2 separate regions of the Homo sapiens genome follow, and region 2 is reported to be linked to region 1. The links are microRNA targets in miRTarBase. Many come from high-throughput screens and were not tested one by one. Region 1 holds a microRNA gene; the other region holds the end of a gene's coding sequence.

Region 1 (7,000 bases):
AGTCCAGAAAGAGCTGCCCAGGTCATGGGCCCTCCGGATCGGTGTCAGCATGCAGCGCATATCATCAGCGAGCTGATTCTTACAGCCCAGGTGGGTCCAGCTCTGCAGAGTGTGAGTGTTTGGGCTGCAGAAGTGGAAAGTGCTACCCGGGGCTCTCGGTGCAGCACCATAGAGCTGTCACCCTGAGGCGTCTCAAGTCACATTATGGGAAACCAGCAGTTTCTCTACATCAGCCTCTTTCCTGCCTTCTTGGTATTTTTTTCTGCTCATTAATTATTCTGCCTTTATTTACCTCACCATCTAGATTGCCTTTACACAGTAAGTTTCTGGCTATTTAAACCATGTGGGGAAATACCATGGAGATTGGTCGCCAAGTTTCAAATAATCAAGTGTATTTAATGTTAATCTGTGTTAGTGAAATCCAGTCTTAGTGGTAGAAGACACTTCAGGGTCCTCCAAAGTCCTAAAGCTGCCTTCATGCACTTGATTTCATGCACATCTTTGGACTGTGAGCCAGCCTGTGTGACAGTGCTAGGAACCCCTATAACTGATGGTAGGACTGAGGATACATTTGAGAATGACCAGAACGGAAGAATAAAGCAAGAGATTGGAAATTATAGTCCCAGCTCTGCCATCAGTCATGTGACCTTGGAGCTGCCTTTGAACCTCTGGGTCTGGTGTTCCCAGCAGCAGACTCAGGGTGCTTTGCACCAGGCAGTGCTCTCTATGTGATCCCCTAAGAGCCATCTGGTGGTTCTTACTCAAATTACAAATGTGTAGGCCCCCACCCCAGATCTACTGAATCAGCATTTCCAAGGGAGGGTCTTGGGTCTTCACTAGAGACCCAGGCAATTCTTAAGATTAGACAAGTTTATAAAACGGCCACTAAATCAAGCTCGTTCAGCCTGTGGGCTGCACGCAGCCCAGGAACAGCATTGAATGCAGCCCAACACAAATTCATAAACTTTCTTAAAATGTTACAAGATTTTGTGTGTGTGTGTGTGTGTGTGTGTGTGTGTGTGTGTGTGTGTTTTTAAGCTCATCAGCTATCATTAATGTTAGTGTATTTTATGGGTGGCCCAAGACAGTTCTTCCAGTGTGGCCCAGGGAAGCCAAAAGATTGAACACCCCTGCTCTAAATGATCTCTAACATCCTTTTTTTGTAGCAAGAGTTTATGAACCTTGGCCAGGCACGGTGGCTCACTCTTGTACCCAGCATTTTGGGAGGCCGAGGCAAGCGGATCACCTGAGGTCAGGAGTTCGAGACCAGCCTGACCAACATGGTGAAACCCTGTCTCTGCTGAAAATACAAAATTAGCTGGACGTGGTGGCTCACGCCTGTAATCCTAGCACTTTGGGATGCCAAGGCAGGTGGATCACCTGAGGTCAGGAGTTCAAGACCAACATGGTGAGACCCGTCCCTACTAAAAATACAAAATTAGCCGGGCGTGGTGGCGCATGCCTATAGTTTCAGCTACTCAGGAGGCTGAGGCAGGAGAATTGCTTAAACCCAGGAAGCGGAGGTTGCAGTGAGCCAGGATCCTGCCATTGCATTCCCGCCTGGGCAACAAGAGCAAAACTCTGTCTCAAAAAAAGTTTATGAACCTTGCACTGCAGAGGCTGCGAGATGTTTGGGAGAAAACCTTTTCTTCGAGATCTGTGGCATACCCAGAAAGTTGACTGTGCGCTCCTGTGCGTGTGTGAACATCCATTCTAAAATTGCCTTGTTTACTTGGCAGTTGTCTCATAAGAGCAGAGTGCGGGGGAAAAGCACTCCAATTGTCTCAGCTTTCTGCTGGTTTAGATTCTGGGTAAACGTTCACTTTACTCTTAATCAACATGAGCAGGTTTTGCCCAACATTTCTTCATGTGTTGAAAAGTCTGTGCAGCTTCTCCCTTCCATGAAATAGCTCTTAGCTTGACCAGGTTCACCCTCCACATTTAAGAGAGTTTAAATACTGCAGCTCCAAAATGACTCCGCGGACAGCGGCTGGAATGAGACTTGCTGCTGTCTCAATGAAAGGGCTCTTCCTCTGTCCGCTGTTAGATTTAGGTTTTTCTCTCTGCTGGGTGAACAGTGGGAGAATGCCTCAGAGACTTCTCCAGCCCCACATGGGGAGGAGGCCTTGGCAGGTTCCCTCTGTTCCTCCCTTCTGAAGTATCCCTGAATGGTCACTCTTGAACCTGTTACTGCTGCTGCTGCTTGGGGGCACAACAGCCAAGAAGTTTTCTAAAACTGAGTAAAATCCGTTTATCCTTCTTGCTGACTGGAGTGCCAGGTGTTGTGACTCATAGCAGTGCCTGGTTGGGGAGGGTCAGCAGGCTGTGCATATCTGACTTCCCATAGGCCCAGTATGTGTCCGCCGCAGGAAAGAGGGGCCTCAGCTGCAAGGGAGAAAGCAGTTCTTGATGCCTGTAGATCGGGGCCCAGTGAGGAAAGCTCCAGGGAGAAAGGCCGCTGGGCTTCAGCCTTGGAGTTTGTGTCTGCCTATTTCTGTTGGATACATTTGAGCTGTTTATGTAACCACGTGTGTTCGTCTGCACAGGTCCTCCCCAGATACACCTGTGATCGGTGTTAATTCTGGCTTGAAAGAGCCCTTCAGAATGGGAAGTGTGGAAAGGTGCTAGGTTCTGATGGGTGGCATTGATTACATCCTGTCACTTAACCTCCTCCCTGGAAAAGAGAGGAGCAGTGGTGCTGTGGCAGTGGCAGAGGTCGCTACAGCCCTGTGATCTTTCCAGGAAAGAGACGGCTTTGGAGGCCTGGCAGCAGCCAGAGGAAGAGGTCGTGGCCGTGGCGACTGGAGCGTGGGAGCCCCTGGTGGCGTCCAGGAGATAACATACACGGTGCCAGCCGATAAGTGTGGCCTCGTCATAGGCAAAGGTAAGAGGCAGCTGGGGTTTCACATCCCCCCTCAGCTGTTTGGCTTGAGGGAAGGCAGGTCACGGGACCTCCAGAACCTTTGGTGAGGTCCCTTTGCTGCTGCAGGCTGGGGCTGCCCGGTCTGGAGGCAGTAGCCACCTTCTGCCGAAACCCTGCTTGGCATGGTTCTCTGAGGCTGCTGACGGGCCTGTTGTGAGGAGCAAAGTGTATTATTTCTGGTGAGTATGAAGAGACAGCAGTAAAACTCCCTGCCTGTTGAGGGCAGCTTAGCTTGGTGAAAAGATACCTTGCGCAAGATGGGGGGCATTTGTCAATCGACTGATTGGTAATTAACTCACCTCCAAGGAACTTAGAGGGACGGTTGAGACAGTATCCTCAGTGAAAATTCCTTCTCGACAGTGTGTCACTTGTTTCCCTTACCAGGTTTGAGTATTTGGTCTTGATCCGCGTAACATGTGAAAATGGTTTTTATCCTTTCTGCATATTTACCGTGAGTCACGGACTCTCTGTGGAGGGAAATAAACATTGATGTGTTAGTTTTTTCTGGGCATTTTGGAGAACATTAGGAAGAAACCCTCATTCATGGCTACTGTAGCTCCTTCCTGTCCTTCACTGAGAACCAGGAGAGAGCAGCCACATTTCTCAGCCATTGGCAGCAGTTCATCTTGGCTAGCCCTGGGACCCAGAAAGGCTACTGAGACCAGGGCCGAGGCTGTGGGGCCTTCCCAGTGTAGCAGCAGGGCTCGGCTTCCGTGGGGCTCTGAGCCAGGCCTCGCTGCCAGCGGGGGACTCCCGTTGTCACTGGGTTTCGTATTTGCCTTCATTAGGTATTTGACAGCATGTGGAGAAAACAGTCGTCTCTCCAGAGTTTCTCAAATTTCTTTGATCACCAAATACCCCTTAGCTGCTTGAGGGGCGCTCGTATTGGATAGGCAGGACTTGGGGATGCTTCACCAGCAGAGACCTCCAGAGCTGGGCAGGTGGGAGCCCCCCGACACTCACCTCCCAGGAGCTGCCCTCGTCCCTGCTCACAGACACTGTGGGCTTATGCTCTTGCAAAATGCAAGAAACCGTGTTGTCTTTTAGACTGAACCACTCAGAGTTGGTATGGGTTCGTGTTCATTTGCCGGCAGGTGTGCGGGCTGGTGAGTGTTTGGGGATATTGCAGGCTGCACCAGATGCTGCCAGAAGTCCCACACTACCCAGGCCGTCAGCCTGACCGCTGTGAGACTGCAGCTAGTTGATGCCTGTAGGTTGACGATTAGCTAGATCTAGATTTCTTGGCCTTTTGCAAACTATTTTGTCGGCGAAGTTTTCATTTGCTTGTGTCTCTAAACCCTGACTGAGCATTGTTGCCTCACCATGACAGGTTCTCATAGTGAGCCCTTGGTGCTCACAGAGCAGCCCCTCGTAGTTGGTCCTCCACAAAGTCATCCTGAGTGATTCCTAGAAAACAGTGATGAGAACGAAGCAGTAACTGGTCTGTGTCCCATGCTTGAATAGCAGCCTAAAGAAGCCTAATTAGTGTCTCGGATATGGGAGGGTCTTTCTATGTCACACACACACCGCACTAAACACACGCACGCACGCACGCACGCGCACACACACACACACACACACACCCCCTACCCCTCAGGGCCCATGTGAGACATCTCTTTTCCTTGAGATGGGCGCCTGGGCAAGGGAGAGAGGAGCCCCACGCAGCCAGGCCCATCTTTCCTTGGCCTCTGGCCTGGACAGACACAGAGCCTCCCTGGCCCCTGCTGGATTTCCATGATAAACACAGCAACATTGACAGATAGCTCAGCCAGCCTGCTCTTGTCAGCCAGGCCTTTTAGCAGGTTTGATTAATTGCTTTACGATTTCACGTCCAGCCAGGGGGCCACTGGTGGGGCACTTCTGCCCCCCATCAGGTAGAAGAATGGAGCGGGCTGCTGAATGAGTCTATAGACAGCCACCATGTGCCAAGCTAGTGACCTCATTTTGAAGGAAGATGAACTTAAATTAACTCCTTCTGGCCCCACGAGGTTTTGTGGCGCCTCCTCACCTTATTAGCATGTTCCCAAGGCCTGGGGATGAGGGGCCCAGTGGGGAGGGCCGGGGCCTCGGCTGTCTGGGGACTGCAGGATTCTCAGTCGCAGACACTCGTGTACTTGTGCTTTTGCCTCCAGACCAAGTGGATCTGGTTGGAGGCTGGTAGGGTTCCCTCGAGTCTTACGTGTGCCTGTGGAAATGGTCTCCATTTTGGTTTCTATTCTTTTTTATTTTTTTTTATTTTTTTGAGATGGAGTTTCGCTTTTGTTGCCCAGGCTGGAGTGCAGTGGCGTGATCATGGCTCACTGCAACCTCCGCCTCTGGGGTTCAAGCGATTCTCCTGCCTCAGCCTCCCGAGTAGCTTGGATTACAGGCATGCGCCACCACACCTGGCTAATTTTGTATTTTTAGTAGAGACGGGGTTTCTCCCTGTTGGTCAGGCTGGTCTCGAACTCCCAACCTCAGGTGATCCACTCGCCTTGGCCTCCCAAAGTGCTGGGATTACAGGCGTGAGCCACCGCGCCTGGCCAAGTCTCTATTCTTTATTGCTCCCCAAAAAACATTGCCTAGGAGCCTGCTTTTCATGGTGCAGAGAAGATAAAATCCATGGCCTCCGAGTAAAGGGCAGAGGTAAAGGTCCCCTAGGAGGGGCTTGTACCGGCCCAGAGGAAATCAGAGCTGTGGGTGCTGGCCCGGTGTCCCCAGACAGGCGGGTCTGGCCAGGGTGGAAAATGCAGGGATGCTTCTCTGAAACTCCAGCGGGACCTTAAGGAAATCACAAGCACAACATTTGGTTTTGTTAGTTGTTTTTTAAATTTAAAACCACCCTAAACTTAACCAACGTCTTCTGCATGCGACCTTATCTGCATGCCATGTCTCCCGGCGTCTTTTCTCCCCCGTAAGGGCAGCCCCTGCTGCCTTCAGGAAGGACCACCTGCCTTTTTCATTCCTGGACCTCTGTAGAGTCCTTGCAAGACGCCCTTGTGTCTGCCTTTAGCGTCCCCTCCCTACTGGCCCGATAGGCTGTTGAGGCAGGGCTTTTCTGGCAGTGGGTAGAGAGAAGCTTGGAGTGTTTGGAGGATTGTGGACGGTGTCTTGGTGAGGTGCCACATGGCATTTAGGGCCTGTTTTTTTGACTGTGGGCATGGAGGAGGGGCCGACACTGGCCCCGGTCTTTGCTTTTGATCACCCAGGCTCGCTGCTGCCCTATACCAGCTTTGGAGCAGATTACCTTTTTCTCCACTTTTCCAAACTGTGCTCCAAGTTATCCTTGTATTCTGGCTCCTCCTAGCAACACTCCATCCCCCACAGAGTTGAGCAGAGCAGATCCGCAAGTTCTGTGAATTTCAGAAGAAGAATCCAACTATTGTTACGCTGCTGGAGCTTTTATTACGCAAATTTCATTAAGAGACTGAGACTCTCCGCAGGTTTTTGAAAGAGACCAACTGAATTTTTGTTAGCCCGGCTCCACCCAGGTCTTTGTGACCTCCACCCCATCCTTGCACTGCCTGTGTAGACCGTCACCCCATGGAGGAGGCAGGGACTTGAGAAGTGACAGGGTGGGATACTGAAGGCCCGAGTGGGCTCCAGGCATGGTTGGGCCTGTGGTCATCTGTTTGGCCTATGGAGAAAGTTGCCCACAGCCAGGCTGAAGGCCCCATTGTCATGGAGGCGCCCTTGGCTCACCATTCTTGTGCTAAGAAGGGCAGTGCCATCCCTGGCTGGGCGGGAGCCCCACAGCTGGCCCCCAAGGGTGAGCTCCATGGTGTAGACCCACAGGCCTCAGCCCAGACCTGGTCTCTGGGCCACTCACGACCTTCACATGGAGGTTTCACATGGCATCTGTGGCCTCAGCTTGGCCTTGAGAGAAAGTCCAGCTTCACTCCAAACAGCTAGTTTTGCAAGTGAGAGAGCCCTGGGTTTAGTTGGAACCACTTTGGAGTAAATAGAGACAACTTCTCTACTGTCAGGGCAAGTGCCGACGTGCACAAAATCCCCCCGAGTTGTCTTCTGGAGCCAAGTGCCCCAGAGCCTCAGGAGTTGCCGCAGTCTCTGCTTACTCTTCTGCCTGTGTTGTGCTGT
Region 2 (7,111 bases), not on the chromosome of region 1:
TGAACCCATGGGCTCAAGCAATCCTCTCACCAGAGTAGCTGGTACTACAATTACCTGCCACTATGCCCAACCTTTTTTTTTTTTTTAATTTTCCATAGAAACAGGGTCTCACTATATTGTCCAGGCAACTCCTGGCCTCAAATGATCCTTCTGCCTCAGCCTCCCAAAGTGCTGGAATTTACAGGTGTGAGTGCCTAGCCCTTTTTTTAATTTTTGAGACAGGGCCATGCTCTGTCACCCGGGCTGGAGTGCAGTGGTGCGATCATGGCTCACTGCAGCCTCTACCTCCCAGGTTCAGGTGATGCTCCCACCTTAGCCCCCCGAGTAGCTGGGACTACAGGCACACACCACCACTCCCAGCTGATTTTTGTATTTTTAGTAGAGATGGGGTTTCACCATGTTGGTCAGGCTGGTCTTAAACTCCTGACTTCAAGTGATCCACCCACCTTGGCCTCCCAAAGTGCTGGGATTACAGTCGTGAGGCCCCATGCCCGGCCTTCACTCACATTTTATTCCCATTTTTTTTTGCCTCTAGTCTTCAGATACTGTAAACAATGAACATTGATGTGCATACCAGTTAGATACCAATTAAATCTTTCCAGTATGGGCAAAACATTTTTTTAAGATGTTAATTGGGTTAGTTTGTGTGTAACTTTTTACTTGAGATTTCTTTTCATGACCATTTTCTTCTATGCTTAATATTCAAAATCATTGAAAAAGTTATTTAACATAATTTTATATGTTGTACCTTTTGGAAACAAGTATGATAGTGACATTTATCTTTTCAGATAACCTACTTTCTCTTTTTCCAGCTGCATTCCAGTCCATGATGACAGGAGGTAACATTGGAAAGCAGATAGTTTGCATTTCAGAAGAAATCTCTTTGTAATTGCTGTAAATGTCATCAAGGCAATCATAGATTTCTTTTCCATTTTGCATATTTTCAAAGATATGTTAAAAAATCCTTAGACTATACATAGCTCTTGATTTAAATGTGATCATAGGTGTTATTTTTAGTTGCATAGGGTATTTGATACAATCATTAATGGATCATACACAATAGGTTTTTAAAAATTAATAACTTTTAGTAATTACTTTTATTAATTTAAAATAGAACGCTTGAGAGGCACTTTGTAAAGATTTGTTAAACTGGAAACGTTTTACATGATCTGATACAACCATTAATGAATCATACACAATAGGTTTTTTAAAATTAATATTAATAACTTTTATTAATTTAAAATAGAATGCTTAAAATAAAATAGAATGCTTGAGAGGCACTGAGTAAAGATTTGTTGAACTGGAAATGTTTTACATGATTCTTAAACTGAAACTTGGTGTAAAAATAGAATTGAGATGGCCTTTTTTTCACATTGTAGACTGAAAAGAGACTTAATGGTATGATGTGTACATAGGGACTGGGGGCAGGATTGGGGGTTTCGGAGCTTGTGTAACAGTTTTTGGGATAGGAGACCAGCGGTTTTGGGTTGGGATTAGTATGGGAAGATAAATAACTTAGGTTGGTTAAGTTGACAAGATTTACTCCAGAGGATCATCTCTTTGTATTTGCCAAATAATTTACTGTATAGCCTAAAAACTCCATATATATTGAGAAAAGCATATGTTTATTTTAGGTTAGCAGGCACATACTGTCAAGTTGTAAAGATTGAGAGGGCAAACAGATGTAAACATCACTTGTAGGTGATTAAAAAGATTGACAGCCGGGCCTGATGTCTCAAGCCTGTAATCCTAGCACTTTGGGAGGCAGAGGCGGGCAGATCACTTGAGGTCAGGAGTTCAAGACCAGCCTGGCCAACACGGTGAAACCCCATCTCTCTAAAAATACAAAAATTAGCTGGGCGTGGTGGCACACGCCTGTAATCCCAGCTACTCAGGAGGCTGAGGCTGGAGAATCATTTGAACCTGGGAGGGGGAGGTTGCCGTGAGCTGAGCTTGCACCATTGCACTCCAGCCTGGGCGACAAGAGTGAAATTCCATCTCAAAAAACAAAAACAGATTGACAACAAAGACAGTTTCAGAAAATGACAGGACTGGGCAAATTAACAAATGTTTGTAAACATGAATGTTCAGGAACTACTGATGTACCTCAAAAGTTTGTTTTATTAATTGTACTCAACCCTCGCAGAACAGTAAAACTGAAGATTATTGTTTCTGAATGTTTTGGCTTATGATTGTCTACACACTGCCAATATACTTTTGTATGCAACATTTGTAATAAGTAGATTCAAACTGTGTTGGTAATCAGCCTCCCCAGTTTTCGTGAGTGGCCCTTTTTTGTTACTTTTCCTGGACCATTTCATCGCCTGAGGGGGTTTCACTTTTCTCTGTATGTTGCTAACTCCCAAATCTCCATCTGTATTTCTGACCTCTTTCTTGAGCACTGGACCTTTACCTCCAAGTAAATATCCTCAACTCTGGATTGCATCTTATACTCTGCTTTTTTCTTTTCTTTTCTTTTTTGAGATGGAGTCTTGCTCAGTCGCCCGGCGTGCAGCGGCACGATCTCGGCTCACTGCAACCTCCGCCTCCCGGGTTCAAGCGATTCTCCTGCCTCAGCCTCCCGAGTAGCTAGGATTACAGGCGCGTGCCACCACGCCCGGCTAATTTTTGTGTTTTTAGTAGAGACGGGTTTTCACGGCGTTACCCAGGATGGTCTCGATCTCCTGACCTCGTGATCCGCCCACCTTAGCCTCCCAAAGTGCTGGGATTAAAGGCGTGAGCCACGGAGTCCGGCCTACTCTGCTTTTCTAAAGTGGAATTATCTTCCTCTGAAATGTTTCTCCTTTATTTTAAATCACCATTAGTAATTTGTGTACCCAAACCTGTCATCAAGGCTTATCTTTAACCTTGAAAATGCCTTTTTAAAGAGAACTCCTTTAATTCCCACGGTTGAGTCTCTCATTCTTCCGCACGCAAATATTTTAAAATAAGTAATTTCAAGAAGTCAGTCAAACTCACAAAGCTTTAACAAGGTGGCATCCAGCTTGGAAGTCAAGTGTTCAAGCCCGCAGTCGGGACATCCAAGAGCTCTTTACATCCTAATTACAACACGGAACCCAGACTCACTGCATACCCCGTCCCGTATATAATGCAAAACTTGATTCTGCAAGTTCCTTTCTCGGGCGGTGAAACTTCGAAGGTCCTCTCCATGGAGACCTTTGATAAATGTTTAAGCAGTGATCTTTTCTTTCGCGTTTGCCTCCATTGCAACGCCTCCGCTGATGGGAAAAACTACTCCCTCCGCTACTGCGGGGTGGCAGTGACGTCAACGAATTAGCTGACCTGTTTTTTCGGGCTTCGCGGACATAGGAGTCCCGAAGGCCGAGAGTGAGTGAGTGAGTGGGAGCGGGGCGGCTGCGGCTCCTCCTGTCCGGGGCGGAGCCCTGCGTCGCGGGCCTGGGGAGGCCCCGCCAGCACCCTTGACGTCTGGGTCCCGAGCAGTGCGGCAGCCACACGACACTGAGGCGAGCGAGTGGGTGTGTGCGTGGGGGGTCAGCCAAACTTCCTGTCCCGCGCTCGAGCTGCTTCCGGCGGGAGCCGGAAGACGCTGTGTGTGGACGGAATTCGGGACCGACTGACGGCCGGCCGGCTTCCCGGAACTGGAAGGTGAGCTCCGAGGTGGGCCTGGCCACCCCTCCTCGGTTAGGTAGTACCCGAGAGGGCGGGGGCCAGTACCGGCTACTTGGGGCCTGGGGCCGAGTTCGCCCCGAGAGAGGAAACCGCCCTCCTTGGGCATCCCTCCTGGATCTGGCGGGCCCGGGAGCGGCCAGTCTGAAGCCCTGCGGCTTTGGCCCTTCCCCTCGCGGGTTTTTAGGGGCGATGTTCTTGCTCCTTTGCTTGGTTTTGGGGGTAGGGATATAGGAACAGACTGTCCTGAGAAAGCCAGAGTCAGCGAGTCCCCGGGGCGGGGGCTCTTGGACTGCACCCGCAGCCGGGGCCTGCCTACGGACCTTGGGGCCTTATTTCTGAGGCCTTTGTGGTGTGGGGTAGAGGATGCCAGGAGGCCTTGCCCTGAATGTTTCAGTCCAGAGCTACCCTCTCCTTTCATACCACTTACTTTCTGGGTTTGGAAAAGGGACAGCTGCCTACTCGGCTGGGCTGGGTCGCCCGTTTCTCCTTTGCCTGTCAGTTCGGGGGGCAGGAGTGTGTGGATTGTTTACGGCCTTCATACATTTCGTGTCGAATTTATTTTCTGAAGTTTCTCAAGATAATCCAATTTATTAAAGTTTATCCCACTTGATCATGAGGCTCAGAAATGCATTTAGGCACCATTTGGAAGTTAAATATTATTAACTTGGGACTTAAGAATTAGTACTTAGGTTGGAACGAAGGTCAACGCAGCATATTTGCAATAAATAAAAAACATTTGGAAATAAAGTCGGGCATTTTGTTAGGGAGTGAGAAATTGCACTTGGTTTTTTCTTAGTGTGGTGCAGAGTAAAAGACAACTAAAGTAGCAGTCAGAAGTTTTAAGTTCTAGTTTTTTACGTTTTGCATCTAAGTAGATGTCTAATTTTTGGCAAGTTGCTGAATCTCTAGCTCTGGGGAGTTTTTCTGTAAACGAAGGGGTTTACCTTTAGGGCTATGACAATTTTTCCGAGGCACTGAACTTTGAGTAGAAGTGACATAAGCATTTCTTTGTTTTGGAAAGATAACTTGAATGGCTGCATAAAGGATGTATTGGAAAGAGGAATTTTAAACGCGGGGTGACCAGTTAGAGGCCTGTTTTAATAGTATAGTAGAAAGTTACTGAGAGACCTAAACAGGGCATTACAGTAGGGAACAGAGAACATTCTGGGAACAGAGAATCACGGGAATTATTTAAAAATGGAGAATGAGAGAGATTTAAAGACCTAGAATTTGCAGCTGAGTGGGAGGAAGATTGGGCGATCATTGAAATAGGTAATACAAGAAGAACAGGTTTGGTAAGGAAGATAATAATCTGGATTTTGGACATTGTTAGGTTTGAGATGCTGTTGGATATACATGTGGAGATACCTAGCAAGCAGTTAGAAATGAAGGTTTGGAGTTCAGAAGAGATGACTAGAGAAAAATGTAGGTATCATTTGTAGTGTCATTCATTCATTATACAAATATTTAGTACCTACCAGTTGCTTACTGGGAAGCTTGTATGGAAGCCCTTTAAGCTCATAGTAAACACATTAGAAGTGGGAAGTGACCGTTAATGGGCACAGGGTTTCCTTGTGAGGTGATGAAATATTGTAAAATTGATCGTGGTTCTGCTTGTACAACTCTGAATGAACTAAAGATATTTTAATTGTACTCTTTAAATGAGTCAATAGTATGGTATGTGAACGATATCTTAGTGAAACTAATTTTTAAAAAAGATTTACATTGCAGTTTTGGAAATCTGTTGAGTAAGGAATTGGGAATAGGAATGTTTAATTGTGTATTTGCCGTTACACCTATAGCTAATGTACATAGTACGTTGCTCTGTTAAAGATGAGATCCCCACAGTACACTTGATAAGATACTGAGTGCTCTAGTACAAATTCTTTTGAGTTCAGTTGCATATCTTAATGCATCCTGCTATTTTTTATTTTATTCATACCGTACACATACAAATCATAAACTTGGACACAAAAATTGTATGGTAGTACTTAGTTATAATATGAATACCCAGTGCTTGAGAAAATGCTCGTGTTAATTTTTAAAGATTATTGAAGTGAAAACACTGAAATAAAAAGATGTCATAGATAACATAAAAAGGACAGTAAATAGTTGTCTGGTTCCTCAGAGATTTTACAATCCTGGAATCTCAAAGTTGGAGGAACCTTAAGGATGACTTAAACAACAAACATCTGATAATTTCTTGGCTTGTTAAGACAAGCTGGAATTGGGGAAGAGGAATTCTTGTTTTTTTTGAGACAGCCTCCATTTGTTACCCAGGCTGGAGTGCAGTGGCGTGATCACTGTTCAGTGCAGCCTCGATCTCCTGGGCTAAAGCAATCCTCCTACTCAGCCTCCCTAGTAGCTAGGACCACAGGCATGTGCCACCATGTGATGCTAATTGAAAAATTTTTTTTTGTAGAAATAGAGTCTCACTGGCTGAGATCGCGCCACTGCACTCCAGCCTGCGTGACAGAGCGAGACTCAGTCTCAAAAAAAAAAAAAAAAAAAAAAGAAATAGGGTCTCACTGTGTTGCCTAGGCTGAGAAAAGGAATTCTTAGGCCATGGAGATTCAGGGTCAAACCTAGAGAGATGTAATCACTATTCACGCCAATGATTTCTGCATACTTCTGGTGTGGGTGGGAGTCCTGGCTTTGCAACTTAATAACTTGGTAATTAAGTAATATACTGAGCCTTGGTTCCTTCCTCTCTAAATAGAGGGATGGATAAACCATATGAAACTGTTGCAGTGCTTGAATAAGAAAAATATGTGTGGAAGAAAAGTCAGGGATTTATGATACTTTATGTGGGAAACTTGGAAGGAGCATTTCCATTTATATCTTGTAAATGGTTAGTTTTTTTTTTTTTTTTCTCGACACAGAGTCTTGCTCTGTCGCCCGGGCTGGAGTACAGTGGAGCGATCTCGGCTCACTGCAATCTCCATCTCCTAGGTCCAAGCGATTCCCCTACCTCAGCCTCCTGAGTAGCTGGGTCTGCAGGCACATGCCACCACACCTAGCTAATTTTTTGTATTTTAGTTGAGACGGAGTTGCACCATGTTGGCCAGGATGGTCTCAATCTCCTGACCTTGTGTTCCGCCTGCCTCGGCCTCCCAAAATGCTGGGATTACAGGCGTGAGCCACTGCTCCCGGCCTAAATGGTTACTTTTTTACAATGAAAAATGAGGATTTCAGGTAGCTTAGAAAGAGAGAGGGAGAAACCAACAGGACAAAAAAACATTTATTCAGTTACTTTTTTTTTTTTTTGAGATGGAGTCTTGCTCTGTCGCCCAGGCTGGAGTACAGTGACGCAGTCTCAGCTCACTGCAACCTCCATCTCTCGGGTTCAAGCGATTCTCCTGCCACAGCCTCCCGAGTAGCTGGGATTACAGGCACCCGCCACATGCCCGGCTAATTTTTGTATTTTTAGTAGAGACGGGGTTTCGCCATATTGGCCAGG

The links. Region 1 holds the annotated microRNA hsa-miR-6856-5p (AAGAGAGGAGCAGUGGUGCUGUGG, at 2,681-2,704, shown strand). A microRNA usually pairs through its seed, bases 2 to 8, with sites in the 3' UTR of a target mRNA and lowers its output. Matches are read on the target gene's strand: a 7mer-m8 pairs with bases 2 to 8, a 7mer-A1 pairs with bases 2 to 7 and ends in A, and an 8mer does both.
Region 2: the mRNA of PTGR2 is a reported target of hsa-miR-6856-5p. Seed matches in the 3' UTR shown: 7mer-A1 at 1,833-1,839.

What each region holds. Positions count from the first base shown.
Region 1 is chr9:130,623,622-130,630,621 of GRCh38, forward strand. It overlaps MIR6856 (microRNA 6856), which reads left to right and starts at 2,676; the gene lies at 2,676-2,742. FUBP3 (far upstream element binding protein 3) reads left to right here. Exons shown (of 19, transcript NM_003934.2): 11 at 1-90; 12 at 2,743-2,884. RefSeq lists a silencer at 6,141-6,435.
Region 2 is chr14:73,883,289-73,890,399 of GRCh38, forward strand. PTGR2 (prostaglandin reductase 2) reads left to right here. Exons shown (of 10, transcript NM_001146154.2): 10 at 813-2,438. The coding sequence ends at 889. It overlaps ZNF410 (zinc finger protein 410), which reads left to right and starts at 3,571. Exons shown (of 12, transcript NM_021188.3): 1 at 3,571-3,627. RefSeq lists enhancers at 1,820-1,929, 3,561-3,630 and a silencer at 3,231-3,510.